Linked DNA regions of Homo sapiens: regions 1 and 3 are each linked to region 2. Evidence: fine-mapped expression QTL. A gene starts in region 2. Each other region holds a variant in brackets. All regions are shown on one strand. Distances are between the middles of the regions. Region 1 overlaps MTHFD1 (methylenetetrahydrofolate dehydrogenase, cyclohydrolase and formyltetrahydrofolate synthetase 1). Region 2 holds the start of AKAP5 (A-kinase anchoring protein 5). Region 3 overlaps MTHFD1 (methylenetetrahydrofolate dehydrogenase, cyclohydrolase and formyltetrahydrofolate synthetase 1).

The links.
Region 1: its variant is fine-mapped to the expression of AKAP5 in whole blood (INTERVAL, PIP 0.92).
Region 3: its variant is fine-mapped to the expression of AKAP5 in whole blood (TOPMed, PIP 0.91).

The regions. Positions count from the first base shown.
Region 1 is chr14:64,410,896-64,415,137 of GRCh38, forward strand. It overlaps MTHFD1 (methylenetetrahydrofolate dehydrogenase, cyclohydrolase and formyltetrahydrofolate synthetase 1), which reads left to right. Exons shown (of 28, transcript NM_005956.4): 3 at 195-254; 4 at 1,577-1,630. Among named protein-coding and RNA genes, the nearest start is that of MTHFD1, 25 kb to the left of the region's middle. The variant C/T (reference allele first, on the strand shown) is at 2,411.
Region 2 is chr14:64,463,517-64,467,758 of GRCh38, forward strand. AKAP5 (A-kinase anchoring protein 5) reads left to right here and starts at 1,983. Exons shown (of 2, transcript NM_004857.3): 1 at 1,983-2,097. It also overlaps a transcript of ZBTB25 not described here. RefSeq lists silencers at 1,778-2,177, 2,188-2,257.
Region 3 is chr14:64,436,120-64,440,361 of GRCh38, forward strand. It overlaps MTHFD1 (methylenetetrahydrofolate dehydrogenase, cyclohydrolase and formyltetrahydrofolate synthetase 1), which reads left to right. Exons shown (of 28, transcript NM_005956.4): 17 at 2,977-3,053; 18 at 4,007-4,147. Among named protein-coding and RNA genes, the nearest start is that of AKAP5, 27 kb to the right of the region's middle. The variant A/C (reference allele first, on the strand shown) is at 2,635.

The DNA of each region.
Region 1 (4,242 bases), 53 kb before region 2:
GGGAGGGGCTGTAACACCATCTGTGTTCACATAATCCCTCCTGCCCCCACAGCCTCCCTATACTCCTGTAAAAGTTCTCTGCAACAAGAGTCGCATGATTAAACATTTCTTTTATTAAAACTAAAATTGTAGAAGCTTTTCTGTGCACTTTGCCTTTCCCTAATCATCTGATTTGCATGCATTTATTATTCTAGGTTGGCAACAGAGATGATTCCAATCTTTATATAAATGTGAAGCTGAAGGCTGCTGAAGAGGTAACGCCAGAAGAGCTGTGCCATCACCCTCCCCAACCTCCACCTGGGTCCTATCGATTACCCCTTGCCCTTTTTGGTCCTCCCTGTGAAAACTTTTATCACCCACAGGAGACATTAGTTTATCTATTTTGTAAGTCAGAAATGGGTGGGTTAGATCTGTGGCCTCTGGTTTGCCCGTGAGTTTTTGTTTTCTCATTAATGATTTTCTTCCCAAAGAGCAGGATGTCAATTGAGGAAAGTGACAAGTCTCGATCATTTTAGGAGATTTATTTGCCAAAATTAAGGACACACCTGGGAGACAGGTCTATACCTTTCTCCGAAGATGATTTCGAGTTCTCCAAATTTAAAGAGGAAAGGGTGGGTTATTGAAAAGTACACGTTTTCATGTAAGAGGTGGGTAGGGAAAAATAGTCATTCATGACCTTCTCTGGCTCAGTGAATCTGCATTTTTTACATAAGATGACAGATGGCCGGACGCGGTGGCTCACGCCAGTAATCCCAGCACTTTGGGAGGCCGAGGCGGGCGGATCACCTGAGGTCGGGAGTTTTAGACCAGCCTAAGAAACATGGAGAAACCCCATCTCTACTAAAAATACAAAAAATTAGCTGGGTGTGGTGGCGCATGCCTGTAATCCCAGCTACTCGGGAGGCTGAGGCAGGAGAATCGCTTGAACCTGGGAGGCGGAGGTTGTGGTGAGCCAAGATAGTGCCATTGCACTCCAGCCTGGGCAATAAGAGTGAAGCTCCAACCAGAAAAAAAAAAGACGATATAGACAAGTGGGGCAGAGGAAAAATGCAGGCAATCTGCATTTTACATAAGATAACATAGACAGAATTGGGCAGGGGAAAAATCAGATATACATTTGTGTCTGGTGGGCTGGGGGGATTTACATTGCCATGGTGAAATTTTAACAGAAACATCATAAAGATGTTGCAGCTCACTACGAATTTCTTTGTGGGCAAAATATGGGGGAGGCATGTAGCTTTTCATCTTGTAACATCTTATTTAGGAACCAAAAAGGGGGAGGCAGATTTGCATGACCCAGTTCCCAGCTTGGCTTTTCCCTTTGACTTAATGAATTTGGGGTCCCAAGATTTAATTTCCTTTCTCAAGAAATAGCAAGCATGACATTGCTGAAGTGCAGTGGTGGCAATTAACAAGTGAATGATGAATGGGTTGAAGTGAGGGACTCATTCTTCAGAACATATAAGGGTGAAATGATGACCAACACCTCCTTGCTTGTTAGTCATGTCTGTAAAAGAAATGGTTCAATATCTCAAGTTGTCTTGCCATTTACCTGCTTTTAATGTCTGTTTTGCAGATTGGGATCAAAGCCACTCACATTAAGTTACCAAGAACAACCACAGAATCTGAGGTGAGCTTTTATGAGTTGATTGTGAAGAGGGAAGGTGAAGTGGTTTCCTCTCTGGTTTTGGTTTACGGGGGCTTTGGGGACTGACACATTTAGCCAAGACCTCCAGGTATTTTTTTTTTTTTTTTTTTTGAGACACAGTTTTGCTCATGTCACCCAGGCTGGAGAGCAATGATGCGATCTCGACTCTCTGCAACCTCCGCCTCCCAGGTTCAAGCAATTCTCCTGCCTCAGCCTCCCGAGTAGCTGGGATTACAGGCGCCCACCGCCTCACCTGGCTAATTTTTATATTTTTAATAGAGACGCGGTTTCACCACGTTGGCCAGGCTGGTCTTGAACTCCTGACCTGAGGTGATTTACCCGCCTTGGCCTCCCAAAGTGCTGGGATTACAGGCGTGAGCCACCACGCCTGGCACCTCCAGGTATTCTTTCTTCACAGACTCCCACAGAGGAGATGGTGCAGGGATGAACATTTGGTACTCAAAGTGTGACTGCAGTACTGTTTGCTTCCAAATCATCTGTTGTGTTTGTTAAAACTGATCCTTGGAGCCAGGCACGGTGGCTCATGCCTGTAATCCCAGCATTTTGGGAGGCCGAGGTGGGCAGATCACCTGAGGTCGGGAGTTCGAGACCAGCCTGGCCAACATGGAGAAACCCTGTCTCTACTAAAAAATACAAAATTTGCCAGGCGTGGTGGCGCATGCCTGTAATCCCAGCTACTTGGAAGGTTGAGGCAGGAGAATCACTTGAACCCGGGAGGCGGAGGTTGCAGTGAGCCAAGAT[C/T]GTACCATTGCACTCCAACCTGGGAAAAAAGAGCAAAACTCCGTCTCAAAAAAATAGGTAAAACCGATCCTTGGCCTGTAATTATCTGCATTCTAAAAACCAAATATGTATTCCTTTTATATGAGGTTCAGGACTAGGCAGAACAAATCAGCGGTGATTAAAGTCAGAACTGTGGTTGCCTGTAGGTGGGAGATTAATGCTAAACTGTAGGAGGATAAAGCAACTTTCTTGAGGTTATGGCAATGTTCCATATATGCGCTGTCCAGTATGGGAGCCACTAGCCCCATGAGGCTATTTGAATTTAGTTAAAATGAAATAAAATTAAAAATTCACTTCCTTGGTTGTACTAGCCACTTTGCAAGGATTAAGTAGCTGCTATTGTATTGTAAGGTGCAAATTATAGAAAATTTCTGCCATCGCAGAAAAGATGATTGGACATTGCTGCTCTACATCTTGATTTGGATGATTGTAACATGGGTATTATTGCTGTAATAAGTTATTAGAGTTCTTAGCTCTTTTTATTTTATTGTATTGTATTTTTAGAGACAGGGTCTCACTCTTTTGCCTCAGCTGCAGCACAGTGGTGTGATCATAGCTCATTGTAGCCTCAACCTCCTAAGCTCAAGTGATCCTCCCACCTTAGCCTCTTGAGCAGCTGGGACTATAGGCATGAGCCACCATGCCCAGCTAATTTTATTTTATTTTTGAGGCAGAGTTTTACTCTTGTCGCCCAGGCTAGAGTGCAGTGGTGCAATATTGGCTCACTGCAACCTCCACCTCCCAGGTTCAAGCGATTCTCATGCCTCAGCCTCCTGAGTAGCTGTGACTACAGGCATGCGCCACCACGCCCAGCTAATTTTTGTATTTTTAATTGCCCATATTGCCCAGGCTGGTCTCAAACTACTGACCTCAAGTGATCTGCCCACTCAAGCCTCCCAAAGTGCTGGGATTACAGGCGTGAGCCACCGCACCTGTCCCCGCTTTTTTTTTTTTTTTTTTTTTTTTGAGACAGAGTCTTGCTCTGTTGCCCAGGCTGGATGCAGTGGCATGATCTCAGCTCACTGCAGCCTCCGCTTCCTGGGTTCAAGCGATTCTCATGCCTCAGCCTCCTGAGAGGCTGAGATTACAGGCATGCGCCACTATGCCCGGCTTATTTTTTATATTTTTGTAGAGACAGGGTTTCACCATGTTGGCCAGGCTGGTTTCAAACTCCTGGCTTCAAGTGATCCAGTAGCTGCTATTGTATTGTAAGGTGCAAATTATAGAAAATAATTTTCTATATTTTGGGAGGCCTGCCTTGGCTTCCCAAAGTGCTGGGATGACAGGTGTGAGCCACCACACCCAGCCCTAATTTTTTTTTTTTTTTTTTGAGGTGGAGTTTCACTATTGTTGCCCAGGCTGGAGTGCAATGGCACAATCTCAACTCACTGCTGGAGTGCAGTGGCACTATCTCAGCGGACTGCAACCTCCACCTCCCAGGTTCAAGCAATTCTCCTGCCTCAGCCTCCCGAGTAGCTAGGATTACAGGCATGTGCCACCACACCTGGCTAATTTTGTATTTTTAGTAGAGACAGGGTTTCACTATGTTGGCCCAGCTGGTCTCAAACTCCCAACCTCAGGTGATCCACCCACCTCAGCCTCCCAAAGTGCTGGAATTACAGTCGTGAACCACCGCACCCAGCCCCTGGCCCTAATTTTTAAAAAGTTTTTGTAGATATCACATTTCACTGTGTTGTCCAGGCTGGTCTTGAACTCCTGGGTTCAAGTAATCCTCCTGACTTGGCCTCCCAAAGTGCTGGGATTACAGGCATGAGACACCTCGCCCAGCCTCT
Region 2 (4,242 bases):
ATGGGGGCTCACACCTGTAATCCTAGCACTGTAGGAGGTCAAGGCAGGAGGATCACTTGAGCTCAGGAGTTCAAGACCAGCCTGGGCAACATAGGGAGACGCCATCTCTACAAAAAAAAAAAAAAGAAGAAGAACCTGGGCATGTGGTCGCATACCTGTGGTCCCAGCTGCATGGGAGGCTGAGGTGGGAGGATTGCTTGAGCCAGGGATTGTACCACTGCACTCCAGCCTGAGCAAGACCCTGTCTCAAATAAAAATAAAAATAAGACAGCTATTTTACCCTGTCTTCACCTAAATAAGCTCATCTTATTTTTTGCCTGAAACTCTTGCAAACTCCCAGGTCTGCTAGTTTTGAGAAACCTTGGATCTCAATAAGGAATAGTTCTCAATTGCTTATAAGCATAATGGATTTCTTTTGGCTTAAAGTTCAAAACTGGCAACAAGCAGCGCTAGCAACCCATAGAGAGATACGCAGACCATTTCGATAGACGTGTTTGCTGAGTGAACAAGGCTGACTGAATTTTTTTTTTTTTTTGAGGCAGGGTCTCACTTTGTTGCCCAGGCTGGCGTGCAGTGGTGCAGTAGTGGCTCACAGCAGCCTTGACCTTCTGGGCCCAAGTGATCCTCCCTTCTCAGCCTCCTGAGCTCCTGAGTAACTGGGACCATACGTGCACCACCATGCCCAGCTAATTTTTTAGATTTTTTTGTCTCCCTATGTTGCCCAGGCTGGTCTCAAACTCTTGGACTCAAGCCATCCTCCTGCCTTGGCCTCCCAAAGTGCTGGGATTACAGGTGTGAGCTACTGCGCCCATCCCTGAATTCTTAATTACAACTAAACTAGATGCTTATGGATTTTCCTGTTTTACAACTCTTGCCTCTTTTATCTGTAATTTTAAGATCTTGACAGCTTATATTTGGCTTTGCTTTTGTGTCTCAAGAGTTCTTTCCTTGATAAGCCTCTGTGGAAACTACAGAATCTTACAAATATAAAACATTTCCGGAAAAAATACAAAAATGGACACCTGACATTTACACTCCCTAAGGTCGTGATCCTGTTGAAGAAAGGAGATGAACGCGGCTGCTTTTCAGTAGTTCTTCACTTCACCTTACCAGGTTCTTCATCTGGATGCTATGCTATGGGGGCCAGAGGAGGAGGCTGGGATTGTGATGGATCCTACTAGATTTTACAGCTGGAGCTCCCAGGAATGCCCTCATAGGGAATGTCCTGAAGGGAATCATGGGTAACTTGTAAGCTACCTCAACTTATTTTTGGAACTATGTAAGGTATAAGATGGATGGAGCTGGGTTCCTGTGCCTTTCTCACCTTGTCCGCATAGAGATGCAGCTGCTCCTGCAGGCCAAAGTTCTGCACCAATCACCTCCACCTGCTTCCCACTGGGAGACAAAGGTTTGAAAGCCTGTTTGGCGATGAACCACGATGATCTGACACTCAAGCCACTCCTGAGAAAGTCGGGTTTCTTTCTGTTTCCATTTATATATGTAATTTTCGCTTCAAACAAACATGACCTCGCTATTCTATGCACAGTTTTGAATCCTGCTTTTAAAATGCGATGTCTGCCTTGTCTTTAAATATTCTGAGGGGGAGGAGAGGAGATGTGTAATGCGACTGTCTATAATTTGAAACCGGACCTCACTATTTAGCGTCTCAGAAAACGCGGGGTTCATTGCCCTGGTCCCCCCCGCCTTCCCCCGCCCCCCGAACCTTCCGGCTGGCTCTCTTGCGGTCCCCGCCTCGGCGCTGATGTGGTCTGGCAGTGGAGATTGGCGCCCGGGCGGAGCACGATGGGCTTCCCCGCGGCAGGCAGGCAGGCTGCTGCTGCAGGTGGGTCCCGGCGCCCGCGCCGCCCCGCGCCTCCGGCGGTCGCCCCGCCCCTGCCCGCCCGCTCCGCTCCGCTCGCATTGGCGCTGCCTGCTGTCTGTCCCCGCGCGGTGGGGAGGGGGCGCACCCGGCGGCGGGCTCTGCAGAGGGCGCCTTGCTCCGGGTGCGACCGCGGCTCCCTGGAGGCCTGGGCGGCGGGCCCCGCGAGCGCGCCGCCACCTCGGGAGCAGTGTTGGCCAAGGACCCCGACGCCCTACGTAAGTAAAGGCAGGGCGGGGAGCCTGCGGGGGAGGAGGGTCGGGGGCAATGTCCGGTCCGCGGACCGCGGAGTGGGCAAGAGGTGCCCACTGGATACGGGGTATCCGAGCCCTCTGAGGTGCTGGGAGTAAGAACGCGGGAGGTCGCTTGTCCGCTGGAATCCGCGGCCAGGGCGACCCTCATCAGGTCTGCCCACCTATCCCCTTCGCGTTACAGCTTGTCTTAGAAGCATGGGTTGCCGGTGGCTTTTTTCCTTCTTTATCCCTCTTTGAGAAATGTGATTTTGGGTTTCTGGCCATTACATTATAATTCTGCAGACAGCCTGAAGCTGGGTTATCTGTTCCACGCCCCCGGCATTTTCCTTTTTGAGTACTTTATCCTGCGCTCTGTCTCCTGCCATAAGGGGCGTCAAGCCAGAATTCGAGATTCCTTCCTCCAGGAGGAAGCTTCGTGGTCCGTATCTGGTGCTGGGAAAGATGCATTGCTTTCCTCGGGTACTGGCTGCTCAAGGGAAAAAGGAAAGGGGGTGTTTTCTGTGACATGAGACTTGCAATTCCATCAGGAAATGAGCACAGGGACTTTAAGATTTCCTGAGGCGATAAAGCTACCCTTGCTGGTTAAGAGCGAATCATTTGCAGTCTGACATTCTGCAAAGTTTTATTGTCTACAGACTGCATTATTTTCCCTCGTTAGTTAAGTTTCTGTTTGGGTATTCGTTTTATTTCTAGTATGTGAGATACATTCAAGTGAGCTTCTCAAACGATTGTCTTTGCGCAATCCAGGTTAGTTTCCAATGACAGACTCCTAAACATCTCATTTCAATATTTCTATTATGTGGTAATACAGCCTCTGCTTAACAAAAATGCTCAGGTGCTGAAAACTCACAAGAGGTGAGAAGATTTAAACAGTTATCAGCTTAGGTTCTAGTGCTCACTGAAACATTGTGAGGAGAAACACTGTCAAATGTTCATATTTTAGTTCCGTCATTGTTCTAGAATGACTTTATCTTTCTGTTAGAGGCACACAGTATGAAACACCCAACCTAAGATAATATTTACTTAGATCATAAACTGATTTTCAGGGTTCCAGTTCCTTCTACAGTTCATAAAATTATGGGTTACCCAAATGAAACTTCAGTGAAGGATTTACATAAAAACAATATAAAGAATGAGTCCCTTTGCTTATTTTAGGGCATCCACCCACTAAAATTCATAGGATCTTTGTTGGATAATCACCTCCCATTTCCATTCTTTGGTGCCATCATACCATTCTAAGGATTAAATTTTCAATACACCTTTATATTATCTAAGTTTGCCAATTGCATAGTTTGCCAACTTATTTTTGGCTTTTAAATTAGTTCCTGAACCAAAAAAATAAAATATAAAGAATTTCAAAAGCTTGGTTTTCAAATGACAAGAACTCAGTCTACTCGTGGTTCAATTATGAGTTGATAAGTGCCTTATGGTTAAATGACCATTAATCAATTTTTTAATTTTTTTACTAATGAAACACTGCAGATTAGTATCCCCAAACAATTCATTTTCTGACGAAACTCTTAAAGCCCAGTTTCAGAACATAAGCTTTAAGCAACAAGCAATCTTGTGTTAATCTGAGCTCTGTTACAGCTCTGCCGTAATCTCAGCCAAATTGCTTCATCTGTACGTGGTGATACCACCATCTTTGTAATATTGTGGTGAGGATTAGAGATGTATGTAAAAGTGCATGCACTGCCTAATACCCAAGAATTGCTCAATAAATGTCAGCTATTACTACTCTTACTGACTTCCAACTATGTGCAGATTATGGTGGAAACATGTGATACAGCAGATACAGTACTTAAATGAAAATGTCAAAATTGTACAACTAATTTAAGAGTGGGAAATGACAGTAATGCTAAATTTTCCTAAGAATATGTATGAAAAATAGCACTTCCTTGATGGAACATACATTTTTAGAACAGAAACCTTATGTTATAATGGTAAAACTAGAGAGTCAAAGTCTCTAGTTCTAACTCTGGCTATGACCTTATCTAGTTGCATGGCTTTTGACAAGACAACTGCTCCCCTCTGGAGTTCAGTTTTGTCATCTGGCTGGATTTGAGTAATCTCAAATAATCTCTAAAGTCCTTTGCAGCTTTAAAATTA
Region 3 (4,242 bases), 27 kb before region 2:
AGTCTCGCTCTGTCGCCCAGGCTAGAGTGCAGTGGCACAGTATCGGCTCACTGCAAGCTCTGCCTCCCAGGTTCACGCCATTCTCCTGCCTCAGCCTCCCGAGTAACTGGGACTACAGGCACCCGCCATCATGCCCGGCTAATTTTTTGTATTTTTAGTAGAGACAGGGTTTCACCATGTTAGCTAGGATGGTCTCAATCTCCTGACCTCATGATCCGCCCACCTCAGGCTCCCAAAGTGCTGGGATTACAGGCATGAGCCACCGCACCCGGCCTACCTAATCATTTTTTTACCTCATTTTATTAAATTCTCTTATAGCATATTAGGTAGCCTTCAAGGTTTAAATACTTACCAGTTCAGTAAGTAGGTTTCCTGGCTTCACTGCCATATGCTACTTTTCTCAATGCACAACTAGTGTAGCTTAGATTTCACTTTGCATCAACAATGCAACCTTCTATTCTGTATCACTATTGAGAAAGAATCTTCATCCACTCATGCAGAATAGAGCTGAAGGCCAGTTTATTGACTGTTTTTGTGATTTTCCTTGACTCAATAACCGTTGCTAGCTAATGGCCTTATTTAGATGACACTCTCAATGTCTAAAACCACATTGGAATTTCTCTTCCTTTGCTTCAATAGCTTTAGACAAATGGTATAATATTTTATAAGGAATAAGCTAAAAGTCCATTTTGAAGATTTAGTATCCGATTTACTTTTCTTTTGCTTCGTGTCTCATTCATGTTTTCTAAGCAACTAGAGGCAGTCATACCTATTGACTAGCTATTTTTTACAGAAATATTAGTTACATGAAACCTGATACTTTTTTCTTTTGAAAAATAAGGGTTGGCTTTAACAACACATTACAGCAAGAGTGGGGGGTGTGTGTGTCTGATTGCTATATAAGACACTGCTTTTGGTATGAAATTATGACAGTCTTTATGGAAAATAATTTGGCATATTATCAAGTGCCTTAAAAATGCTTCTCCTCCTTGACTCATTTAGAGTATGAACTGGGTTTTTTTGTTCATTTTGTGTGTGTGTGTGTTTTTACTTTGAAATTATTTTAATTTTGAAATAGAAAACATCTTGAAAAAAAAACCCACAAAATATATAGGCAAATTTGTACTCTGTGAGCTTCTCACATCCTTACACTGCTTCACCAATCTCTAAGATGAAAAACTCTGTTCTAAAACATATTCAGCCATCAGCAATGATGTTATTAGTAGGAATATGGATCAATTTAATTTTGTGTTTCTTTGATATTGTTTGGCATTTGATACTGAAATGGCAACTCCTGTTTCCTCTCTATACTCATAGTACTCTCAGCACCTCACTTCTGACACCAGATGGGTAGTTTTTCTCTTCCACAACAATTCAGCTTTCACTTCTCCAGTGGATATTGACTGAGTATCCTATGATTTAACTCAATTCTGACACTAACTGTCTGGAGCAGATCCTACAGGTAAAGGGCTCAGTCCTAAAAGACTGCCCCACTTCAGACACGAATCGCAAGTCCAGGTTGTCACCTGTGCTTCTGACCAACTGGTTATAAACTGGAGGGTCCCCACAACCCCCTGCTCAGGTTCATTTGCTAGAATGGCTCACAGAACTCAGAGAAGCATTTCACTTGTGTTTATGGTTTATTATAAAGGATACAGCTCAGAAACAACCAGATGGAAGAGAAGCGTAGGGGGCATCACTCTCCCAGCACCTGGATGTGTTCACCAGCCCAGAGGCTCATCAAATCATGTTGTTCAAGAGTTTTTTTTTTGAGACGGAGTTTTGTTCTTGTTGCCTAGGCTAGAGTGCAATGGAGTGATCTCAGCTCACTGCAACCTCTGCTTCCCGGGTTCAAGCGATTCTCCTGCCTCAGCCTCCTGAGAAGCTGGGATTACAGGCATGCACCACCACACCCGGCTAATTTTGTATTTTTAGTAGCGACAGGGTTTTTCCATGTTGGTCAGGCTGGCCTCGAACTTTTGACCTCAGGTGATCTGCCCACCTTGGCCCCCCAAAGTGCTGGGATTTACAGGCGTGAGCCACTGTGCCCGGCCTGTTCAAGAGTTTTATACACCCCTAACACCTTACCCAGAGGTTGGTGGGTGGGACTGAAAGTTCCAGCCCTCTAATCATTTGGTCTTTTTGGTGACCATTCCTTTCCTGAGGCTGTCTAGGAGACCTACCATAAGTAACTTATTACCATAAACTCAGGTGTGATCAAAAGGAGTTTGTAATGAATAACAAGACACTCCTATCACCCTTGGAATTCCAAGAGCTCTGTGAGCCTTTTGTCAGGAACCCATGACAAAGGTCAAATATATTTCCTATTACACTACACATACCAAAAGCCAGAACTGAGGGTACACTAAAATGTTAACAGTAGTTAGTCCTGGGAGGTCGTTAGTTGGTTAGTTGCTTGGTCTTTGCCATGTTTTTTGTGGTTATATAATTGGATAGATATTCTGTCATCAGAATAAAAATTCTCTCTGCTAAGTGTGCTATGTTTCCTAAATTTCCAGACCAGGCCTGGCACCCAGCGTGTTTCAAAAGATATTTGCACTTGCCCTGATTTGATGGCTCCTGCATTTCTTACGGTGGTGGAAAGTCAATGAGTCATCATCCCACAGAACAACA[A/C]CACAAACCTCAGTCTTTTGAAAAAATGTAGACTGCTCTGTTTTTCTTATATGTGGAATATGCTTTAAAATAGATTCCAGATTTCTAGTTAACTGTTTGAATTCTCTAGATGGGATAAAACCAAGCCATTCCACATTCCTTTGCTGTAAAAATAACTCCTGTGTATTTATGGTATATGAACATCATTTCTTAACTTTAACACATATTCTAGCTTTGCCATCCATTTTGAAATATTGATAGACAATCATGAAATTAGACTTATTGCTTTAAAACTCTGCTGCTTCCTTTAACTTTGTGGTCCTTTTACTCAAAATCGTTCTATATCTTGCCTGTCTGCTGTAGTGTTGGATACCAATGATAGATTCCTGAGGAAGATCACGATTGGACAGGCTCCAACGGAGAAGGGTCACACACGGACGGTAACAATTTGTCCCTTTCCAAGGAAATTAGTTCAGAGGCACTAGATCTTGCTGCTTCTCTCCTCCTCCATCCTCTCTCATACGACTGATACTGCCAGGTGTTGTTCTGCCTTCTCCCTTTTAAAATGGAAGTGAGTAGGTGTGTGGCATTGAGCACTCCTGACAGCTTTTGCAATAAATCCCATGTGTCACCTGTGTGTTTTTCCCCCGGCATTTTTTCCTGGAGGTGGAGAGCCCCAAGTGAATATCCTTGCATAGAAATTGATTAAAATTGCTTCTTTTTTGTGGCCATTTCACTGTATATCTCCTTGGTTTAAGAGGTACCATATTATTCCCTTGTATATGAAAGAAACAATAAGCGCATGATTATAAGCGGCCTTCATAGGGATAAAATCATAGCTTTTTGGTCCTACTATAACATTTATTTTAAAAAACTGACAACTCAGGGCTGGGCGTGGTGGCTCACGCCTGTAATCCCAGCACTTTGGGAGGCCGAGGCGGGCGGATCACTTGAGGTCAGGAGTTCGAGATCAGCCCGGCCAAACCCCATCTCTACTAAAAAAATACAAAAACTAGCTGGGCATGGTGGCACGCGCCTGTAATCCCAGCTACTTGGGAGGCTGAGGCGCGAAAATTGCCTGAACCCAGGAGGTGGATGTTGCATTGAGCCAAGATTGTGCCACTGCACTCCAGCCTGGGCAACAGACCGAGACTCTGTCTCCAAAAAAAAAAAAAAAAAAAAAAAATGACAACTCAGGGTCTTGGAATAATTAATTAATATATTTTTTTGCTATTAGAGGATTATTTTCATTAAGTATTTTGGGTAGTATTCTGTTATTCTATCCTTTTAAGCTATTTGTTTAAGCCTCAGATGTAAAAGAGGATCACTTTTGCAATTCACACTTCTGGTTTAACACAAAGTTTTTGCTAGTACCTCTTTTCCCTGCCCACAGGCCCAGTTTGATATCTCTGTGGCCAGTGAAATTATGGCTGTCCTGGCTCTCACCACTTCTCTAGAAGACATGAGAGAGAGACTGGGCAAAATGGTGGTGGCATCCAGTAAGAAAGGAGAGCCCGTCAGTGCCGAAGATCTGGTGGGTACCCAGACACGCCAGGCTTGGCGACATATCTGTGTCTGTTGTCCTAGGGTCTTTCAGCAGTTATTAATAACAAAATGTAATGCTGTACT